Regions from separate parts of the Homo sapiens genome. Here all the other regions are reported to be linked to region 1. Evidence: microRNA targets listed by miRTarBase, many of them from high-throughput screens and not tested one by one. Region 1 holds a microRNA gene; each other region holds the end of a gene's coding sequence.

Region 1 (3,216 bases):
TCCCAGCACTTTGGGAGGCCAAGGCGGGCGGATCACAAGGTCAGGAGTTCGTGAGCAGCCTGGCCAATATGGTGAAACCCTGTCTCTACTAAAAATACAAAAAAAAAGCCAGGCGTGGTGGCAGGTACCTGTAGTCCCAGCTACTCGGAAGGCTGAGGCAGGAGAATCGCTTGAACCCGGGAGGCGGAGGTTGCAGTGAGCCAAGATGGAGCCATTGCACTCCAGTCTGGGCAAGAGAGCGAGACTCCGTCTTAAAAAAAAAAAAAAAAAAAAAAAGGAATTCGGCTGGGCACGGTGGCTCACACCTGTAATCCCAGCTACTCCAGAGGCTGAGGCAGGAGTACTGCTTAAACCCGGGAGGCAGAGGTTGCAGTGAGCCGAGATCGCGCCACTGCACTCTAGCCTGGGCCACAGAGCAAGACTCCATCTCGGGAAAAAAAAAAAAAAGTAATTATTGGATGGAGAAAAGGGCAGACAAACGGGGCAGAGAAGTGCATAGGCAGATAGAAACAAGAACAAGATAGACAGAGCACATGGATGAACAGACACACGGACAGACACGTGGGACACACCGATGGGCAGATAGAGTGCACAGAGAAACAGACGGGGCAAGTGGATGGGCAGGTGGAAAGAGAGGCAGGGCCCACGGACAAACAGACTGGGATGGATGCATAGACAGACGGATCGATCGGGTGGATGGGCTCACTTGCAAGTGCGCTCGCGGCCACCGGCGTGGCAGTCGAAGTTGTCGTAGAGGCAGGCGGGCGAGCTGCAGGCGGGGTCGCAGCGGCTGTTGTTGAAGAGGCGCCAGCACTGCAGCGCCTCGCATTGCCGCCAGGGGTCGCCCACGCTCAGCGAGCAGTCGCCGCCGTCCCAGCCGCAGCCTGGGCTGTTGCACTCGCGGTCGCAGCGCTGGTCCCCGCGCTTGGCCTGGCAGGCGGCGCGCGGGCACCGCGGCTCCTCCGAGACCTCGGGTGCCGCGGCGGGCGCCTCGCAGCGCGGCCCGGTCCAGCCCTGCGCGCAAGCGCAGCGGAAGAAGGGCGCGAGCGGCGCGGGGCGGCAGGAGCCCCCGTGGAGACAGGGGGCGGCCGCGCAGCTGGCGTTGCTGGCCCCCGGCGGCGACCCCGGGAAGCTGCGGCAGGAGGGTCCCGACAACCCTGGGGGGCAGGCGCAGCGCGGCCCGCGGGGCGTCTGCTGGCATGGGACGCCCACCGGGCACTGCAGCTCCCGGCAGGAGCGCGCCACCCGCTCGCAACGCGGACCCCAGAACGGCTGGGGGTCGGGTTTGGGGAGGGAGGGATAAAAATGAGGGTGGGGAGTGGAGGGAAGGAGGAGAAGAAATGGAGGAGTGGGGAAAAGAAGAGTCAAGGGGAGAGAGGGGGAAGAGAAGAGGTCAAGACTAAGGAAGGTTGAGACCCCCTCAACCTCCCCATGTCCCACCCAACCGCTCCCCTTTCCACACTGGAGACCCCACCTGGCAGATAAGCCCTGCCATCCCAGGAGGCCACGCCCCCCAATCACCATCCTCACCCTTTTCCCTTCAAACCTCCAGGAAATGTCGGGGCAGGGGGTTGTTTCTTTGTTTTTTGAGACGGAGTGTCACTCAGTCGCCAGGCTGGAGTGCAATGGCGTGATGGCTCACTGCAACCTCCGCCTCCCGGGTTCAAGTGATTCTCCTGCCTCAGCCTCCCGAGTAGCTGGGATTACAGGCAGCTGCCACTACGCCCGGCTAATTTTTATATTTTTAGTAGAGACGGGGTTTCACCATGTTGCCCAGGCTGGTCTCTAACTCCTGGCCTCAAGTGATCCTCCCGCCTCGGCCTCCCAATGTGCTGGGATTACAGGTGTGAGCTACCACACCCGGCGGAAATGTCAGCATTTTCCAGAAACTCCCTTCCCTTCGATGTCTCCCCTAAAGCCACATCCTCCTCCTAGACGCCACGCCCCTACTACTCCAGAGGCCACGCCCCTACTCCTCCTCCAAAGGCCGCCACCCACACCTACCTGGGCACAGTGACAGGTGAAGGTCAGCCCACCCCCAGGACCCGGGCTAGGACGGCACTGGCCTCCATGCTGGCATGGCTGGGACTCGCAGGGAGACAGGACAGTCTGACAGCGAGGACCTGAGCGAGCGGGAGCATGTAGATCAGCCACAATGGGGGAATGACAGGCGGGGTCCCAGGCCAGCCCCTTCGCCAACGCTTACCTGAGAAGCCAGCATGACAAAGGCAACGGAAACCTCCGCCTGGGTCCTGCAGGCAGTCCCGGGTGTGTGCCGCGTGGCAGGCACCTGAGCGACACTCATTGATGTCTGCCTCGCAGCGCAAACCAGTGTATCCTGGGGGACAGGTGCAGCGGAAACCACCCACCAGGTCCACGCAGGTGCCATTGTGTAGGCACCGGGGCCCTGAGTCCAGCGGTGGGCCTGGGCCGCAGTCATCCTCATTAATCTCGCAGAGCACCCCTGGGGGAAGAAACGAGGGGTGGTCAAGAGGGAATGAAGACAGCCTCTCATCCTGTCCCCCCAACCCTGGCCCTGGCATACCCAGCGTTCCTGGGGGACAGGAGCAGAGATAGCGGGCCACGAGGTCAATGCATGAACCCCCGTGCTGGCAGGGCTGGGAGGCACACTCGTCCACGTCGTCCTCACAGTTATCACCATTGTAGCCAGGAAGACACTTCAGTGGGGTAAGAGAGGGACCCACTCAGCTTAGTGGGACACAGACCCACCTGGACATACCCATGAAGACGCAAAGAACCCCAGCACAAAAGGACACACACAGATGTTCAGCGCACTACCAGTAGGTAATCCCAGCACTTTGGGAGGCCGAGGTGGGCAGATCACCTGAGATCAGGAGTTCGAGACCAGCCTGGCCAACATGGTGAAACCCTGTCACTATGAAAAATACAAAAATTAGCTGGGCGTGGTGGTGGGTGCCTGTACTCCCAGCTATAATGAGAGGCTGAAGCAGAAGAATCACCTGAACCCAGGAGGCAAAGGTTGCAGTGAGCTGAGATCGCGCCACTGCACTCGTCTGGGTGACAGAGTGAGAACCTGTCTCAAAAAAACAAACAAATAAAAAAACACCCCAGATCTACCCAGAGTGACACCCACAGATACACCAAGAGTCACAAAAGCAAAAACTCAGACATATCTAGAGACATACCCATACCAAGCCACACAGAAATGTGTGCCCAGACGCACCCAAGCATGCC
Region 2 (3,257 bases), not on the chromosome of region 1:
AAAGAAAATGAGGTGATAGTTACAATAAATGTATTAAGACTTTTGGAGAAGGCTTCCCTTGAGGTATAGATTTTAAATCTCATAGTAATATTAGTCTGTAATGGCTACATTGAACTTTTTAGCCATTTCAAGTATTAGATTAGAAAGTTAAGGAAATTTAGAATAATGTACAAAATACCATGGTTGATAAATGTGGAAAGGCCATGTGTATTCCTCCCTTACCACTGCCACCACTATTACTAAAACAAACTTATACCTAAAGAAAAAGGTTTCACAGTGGAAATGATTTGGTATATGTATTTTTGCATCTTAAAGCCATTTTCATAAATTTTTTTAAATCTAAGAAAAAAATAATAGTTGTACTTTTTATTTTTTAAATAGGCATTAAGTTCAGAATTAGCCCAAGCCAGAGATGAAACCAAGAAAACACAAAATGATGTTCTTCATGCTGAGAATGTTAAAGCAGGCCGTGATAAGTACAAGACTCTGCGACAGATTCGACAAGGCAATACAAAGCAGCGTATCGATGAGTTTGAAGCAATGTGAGAGCTGTTATTTTGCATATATGTTCTTCATAAGCTGAACCACCAACAGAGAAAAGCAGGCCTTTGCAGATATGATGGAATGCATCCCACCTTGCCAAAGCACTTACACCAGTTTGACTGTGCTAGCTAAAAGACAAATTTAAGGGGAGCTCTTCAACATTAAGGCAGTATGATATCATGCTTGGTTTTCTTTTTTCTTTTGGTCCAGGGAATGGAGAATGGTGTTCCATTGCCTCTTTTCACATTTTTTTTCTTTTTCTTTTTTTTTTCTGTTGAAGATTAACACTAATTATCACGTCTGACAAATGTGTATGTGTGGTTTCAGTTCTGTGTACATTTTAAAGGATAATGGTGAACATTTTAATGGGTTTCCCTTGCCCTTTCCATATTTAACCTATTTCCACATTCTCTCTCACTCACATTTTCTCAGTGTGCCCTTCTCTTATCTGCCATGTCCATAGCCATAATTCCACCATCATACAGATCAGGCAGTGTTTAAAATGATGGTAGGTAGCACAGTGGACAGTCTTTGATCATCATGTAGAATATGGCTATGAATCAGGAAAGAGATTAGAACATTTAATAATGTATGTACAGCTGGTGCTTAGTTTTTTTTTAATCTAAATTTAATTACCTTATTGGATATTTGATATTTGGTTATTTAATCACAGTCATCTTTAACAGCTTACACTGATTGGTGTTTTATCTCCTGTGATCCTTTGATGGCTTTTTTTGCCTACCATTTCACAGAGGTTTAGACAGCAGTAGTAGCTCCCTAGGAGAGTTTACTGATGAAACAGCCTCTGCAAGATTTTAAAAGTTTTGTTCTTTTATAGACTGATTTAGAAAAACAAATGATTAGTTAAAAAAAGAAAATATACATTTGTTGGTAACTAATGTTATTTTTTAAAACCTGGACCTTTTCTGGAAGGGCAGCATATAAAAACATCAGTCCCGAGGAGGGGACAACAATACTACCTCACTACTACATCTGTGATGACTGGTTGTTCAAACACAATGGAGTGTGTAAGGTATATGTTTTATAATTCATAACCATAGCCTCGATCATCAAGAAATACTTTCGAAATTTCATTTTCCTTCAGAATATCTTAAGAGTGCTAAATTTTTAACTGCCTTTTTGTCGAGTCAAACTGTGGGATTCTGATTTGTATTAAAATTGTAAGCTCCTCACTGGTATACTATCATCCTGGAGGGGTGTTGTATGGCTGAGCAAGAGAGAGAGAGAATGAGAGAGAGACTGTGTGTGTGTGTGTGTGTGTGTGTGTGTGTACTCTGTGTGTGTATGAGAGAGAGAAATGCTAACCTTGTAGCATGTGAAGAATGTCTGTACCTTGATACGATAGTTACATAATCAGTATATTTGGTTTCTAGATCACTGTGCTTATTTTGTTTCAATCTCTGACTAAAAATACTTAAATTTGGTTTGTTAATTCTTATTTTAGAAATTATAATTTTAGTTTATATTAATTTCGGTTATAGCTTACTGAAGAAATCTTTCCAGTTAGAAGGAGGTTCTAATATTCACATGTTCTAATACTTTGTTTATTGTAAAACAGCTAAATTTGGAGATACGTAAAGCCTTGTTTTCTCTGTGTGGTTCAGCTACTTTCCATTTGGTATTACACAGTCAAATTTACATTTATCTATTAAAATTGCCATTTTATTAAACATTTTCATGCACAGTAGATTCAAGTTGTGTCTGAAAATATCTCTTGTGCTTTTTTGATTTTGCTGACTTTAAAAGGATTAATCTGGGCAGACATTATGTAAAAGAAAGGTTGCGTTTAATATATTTTTTGAACTTTGTAGGACAAAACATAGCTGGTTAACCTTGAAGTGACTGTTGTACCATGGTTGTGCACATGCTTCAGAATCCTATGGAAGAGAATATTCCTACTTGCAGTACATCAAAGGAATGGATGGTGGACCCTACTATTCATGTTTTGAGACATAAATGTTCACTTTAAAGCAATTGCATAATAGATAAAAACCTGAACTTTCATTGGATTTTTGTTAATTTTCCTCATTTTGAATTATGTGCACTACCATAGCTACATCAGTTTGATACAGTATTGAAAAATTATCAGTTATATTTTGCTGTTTATGATCTATTTGTAGATTAGGATTAAAATGGATTTAATCCATTTTTAAGGCTGTGTGAATTTTTCTAAACAAGAACCATTTGCAATATGGATTTCTTAGAGATTAAACCAATTATAACTTATTAGCAGTCGCGAGCACATGTTCATATAGTCAATGTAAAAATACACTAATGAGTATTTGGTAAATCCCAGTAGGCTTTTACCATTAGCATAATTTTGTGTTGTACAATTAAGTTACAATTACATCTCTAATTTTGGATAATATTCATTGGTTAACAATAAAGTGACAAAAGCTCATGCCTTCAAGGTCCACTGTTGTTATTTAACATGGATTTTTTGTATGTTTCTTGAAAATTACAATCTTTATCACAGCCATGAATCACCACAACTTAAAAGTAAGAAGTAGATAGGAAATAATTTTAAATCCTCATAGATCTACTCTTTCCCCGATACCTCTTTGGTATGGAAGTAATAGTGATTAATTCTGTGGAAAAGTTAAATTATTAAATTAAATTGACTTTGTTGACAACAAAACGTAATTTAGGGTTTCCAGTCATTGCCTTTATTGTATAGTGGTTAGTTTCTTTTT
Region 3 (3,257 bases), not on the chromosome of region 1:
TAAAAATAGTATGTCAAATATGTTTTACTCATATAGCATCATTTTTTAAATTAACTTCTCTAAACTTTCAACCTTGTTTTTAAAAATTGCTATTTAAAAAAAAAAAAAAAACTGTGTGAAACCAAAAATAGCCTGCATGTGTTTTATTTTTAATTCCTTGTGGCTGGGATTGGAGGGGAGGTCACAGTTTGCTTCAACAGTGAAAATACATTGCATGCCAGAAAAGATCCAAGGATAAAAATTAATACCAAGGTTTTAAACTGATTATTAGTATTTTTAATAACTCATATTTAAAATCAATAGGATGTACATATAAACTTATTTTTGTTTTTCTAGGTAGTTGGCAAAAAAGGAGAAAGCCACTAAGGTACAAAAGACACTGGACAACCATATTGCAATCAGATCTACAGCTCCTGGATAATTGCTTGATTCTCGCCAGAGACTGTCAATGTTTCATTCATTGCCATTACCAATAAATCATTGCTTTTGTTCAGATGGTATCACTAGTGTTTCCATTGTAATCTTGACACATGCAATTGTAAATAAAAGTCACCACTTTTGCCAAGCTTAATTTTTGTCTTTCTAAATCAGTATTTTCTCTTTCCATGTATTTGAAAACTGGTTAACTTCTGATTTTAGTAGAGACTTAAGTGTCTGGTAGTATATTGATTGAAAGCCAGTTTCTTTAGAAAAGGAGAAACTGTTCTAGGGAATTAAGAAGTACATGTGTACACATTCATGGCAAGTTATTTTGATAAGTGAACCTGGAACAGCTAACCATGTTAAATTATTACTGCATTTTTATTAAAGGACATTTGTATATCTGAGCTATGGAAATTACTCAAATTATAAATTAGAAGAAATAAACAGGTTTAATGAGATTTAGCTACTCTTACCTAAAACTTAGCTAATGGGTCCACAGATTCTTTCTTGGTATATATCAAGATTTTAATCTCTTCTGGTAAACTTTAAAATTTGAGTCAGCCTTTTTTTTTTTTTTTTTTTTTTTAACTAATAGAAGAATGTGGAAATCAGACAGTTGGGGAAAAAATACAGCATAGTGAATTCAGAAAACAGGAATTGGCCAGGTGTGGTGGCTAATGTCTGTAATCCCAGTACTTTGGGAGGCCAAGGCGGGCGAATCACCAGAGGTCAGGAGTTCGAGTCCAGCTTGGCCAACATGGTGAAACCTCGTCTCTACTAAAAATACAAAAATTAGCCAGGCATGGTGGCGGGTGTCTGTAATCCCAGCTACTTGGGAGGCTGAGACAGAAGAATCGGCTGAACCCGGGAGGCAGAGGTTGCAGTGAGCTGAGATTGCGCCATTGCGCCCCAGCCTGAGCGACAAGAGCAAAACTCCGTCTCCAAAAAAAAAAGGGAATTATTACCCTTAATCAAGTATTTATTACCTGAACTACCAAAACGTGCAGTGTAAATATACAGAGAACATGATTTAAGGTTGAAAATGAGGTGCTCAAATAGAAATGTTTAAAAGGTCTTTCACAAAAGGCTGGTAAAATACCTATTCGTTACCTTTTTTATCTTAAAATTGTAATCTAAAAAGTATTGGTAGTTTTAATTTTAAAATTTCTGAGTATTTTGAAAACTATTTTTAAAGAGTACATAAGACTGTAAAATTGTGATTCAGTTAAACATTTGAGGGCATTCTTGTCTAGGAATATGGTAGAGATACCATTTGCCTTTGTGAGAGCAGTGTGTTTATACTTGTTTATGAAAAAATTCTACAGAAGTTTTAGTGTTGAAAGAGTCCCTTTCTGAAACCCAAGTGTCATTAGATAGTTTAGTTCATTTGTATATGGGCACATTAACTGGTCTGTGATGATCTTAACACTCCTTAAATAGACCATCTCAGATTAATCACATCTGAAATTAAGGATAAGATTAATATGCAGGGTTTTGGTTTACAGTTTTGTACACTTAACCTTTCTGAGTAATTGTTAAAGTGCCTCATCCTAAGTATTGCTGACCTTTTCCTATTTATACTTGATAGTTTGAAAACCCAGTGAAACAAATTTCGTATTTGTAAAGGATTGGACATCAGATTTATATTGTCTATGTGACTCTTCTATAACAATTAGTTGCAGTATGCAAGTATTACATAATTCAAATTGTAAATAGTGAAAAATGAACGTTTATAGGTAACTATAACGTTTCACTTAATGGGAAATCTTACTATTATAAATGTGCATAATTGGCATTTAAAATATCAAACTGAAATGCTGTTTTCTCCTAAAACAGTATATATATATACACACATATGTATATGTAACATTTATATATAACACTGAATTTTCCAGATGAATAAGAGCATTTGAAAAAATGTAACTCTAGTTATTTTAACTGAAGTTATTTATTAGTGCATCTAGAAAACTGGTATTCAGTTTCTTGTTCATTTTGTCGGACATAGCAAAAAAGAATTTCATGATCTCTGTATTTTGATACATTGACATCAGGTGCTTTTGATGAGAAACAACAGTGAAATATCGTGTTCATAATAGAAACGAAAGTCAGGTATTGCAGTAGGAAGTCTTTGTCAGCTTAATGCTGAAGCCAAGAGTAGCACAAGGTACCACATTCTTGTGCCCACGACAGGCTTTTATAATCCTTCTGAGTTCTCTTTGACATCAAGCCCCACGTTGTTCCCCAGTCTCAATATTCTGTTGGAGGCAGCCACGTAACAATTAGAGTTGAAACCTGCCCCACGTTGTTCCCCAGTCTCAATATACTGTTGGAGGCAGCCACGTAACAATTAGAGTTGAAACCTGCCCCACGTTGTTCCCCAGTCTCAATATACTGTTGGAGGCAGCCACATAACAATTAGAGTTGAAACCTGCCCCACGTTGTTCCCCAGTCTCAATATTCTGTTGGAGGCAGCCACGTAACAATTAGAGTTGAAACCTGCCCCACATTGTTCCCCAGTCTCAATATTCTGTTGGAGGCAGCCACGTAACAATTAGAGTTGAAACCTGCCCCACTTTGTTCCCCAGTCTCAATATTCTGTTGGAGGCAGCCACGTAACAATTAGAGTTGAAACCTGCCCCACATTGTTCCCCAGTCTCAATATTCTGTTGGAGGCAGCCACTTAACAATTAGAGTTGAAACCTGTCTGCCATCCTTTGTCTCAATGTTTGAGGATGTATGCAGTGTTTTTGGCAGCGATTATAGGAATGCAGTTGTTTATTTGGCCTCAGCAGTTTATTTATGGCTGCAATTAATATCCCTGATCATGGGCTTTT

The links. The annotated mature microRNA hsa-miR-6795-3p reads ACCCCUCGUUUCUUCCCCCAG and lies in region 1 at 2,465-2,485, opposite strand. An mRNA with a match to its seed (bases 2 to 7 or 8) in the 3' UTR can be bound and repressed. Matches are read on the target gene's strand: a 7mer-m8 pairs with bases 2 to 8, a 7mer-A1 pairs with bases 2 to 7 and ends in A, and an 8mer does both.
Region 2: miRTarBase lists RDX as a target of hsa-miR-6795-3p. Seed matches in the 3' UTR shown: 7mer-A1 at 1,505-1,511.
Region 3: the mRNA of TXNL1 is a reported target of hsa-miR-6795-3p. The part of its 3' UTR that is shown has no 7-base or 8-base seed match.

Annotation. Positions count from the first base shown.
Region 1 is chr19:15,176,819-15,180,034 of GRCh38, forward strand. It overlaps MIR6795 (microRNA 6795), which reads right to left and starts at 2,532; the gene lies at 2,465-2,532. It overlaps NOTCH3 (notch receptor 3), which reads right to left. Exons shown (of 33, transcript NM_000435.3): 21 at 2,546-2,678; 22 at 2,207-2,464; 23 at 2,005-2,123; 24 at 707-1,272. RefSeq lists a silencer at 827-996.
Region 2 is chr11:110,229,158-110,232,414 of GRCh38, reverse strand. RDX (radixin) reads left to right here. Exons shown (of 14, transcript NM_002906.4): 14 at 382-2,974. The coding sequence ends at 546. Among named protein-coding and RNA genes, the nearest start is that of RDX, 66 kb to the left of the region's middle.
Region 3 is chr18:56,600,136-56,603,392 of GRCh38, reverse strand. TXNL1 (thioredoxin like 1) reads left to right here. Exons shown (of 8, transcript NM_004786.3): 8 at 337-3,257. The coding sequence ends at 366. Among named protein-coding and RNA genes, the nearest start is that of TXNL1, 37 kb to the left of the region's middle.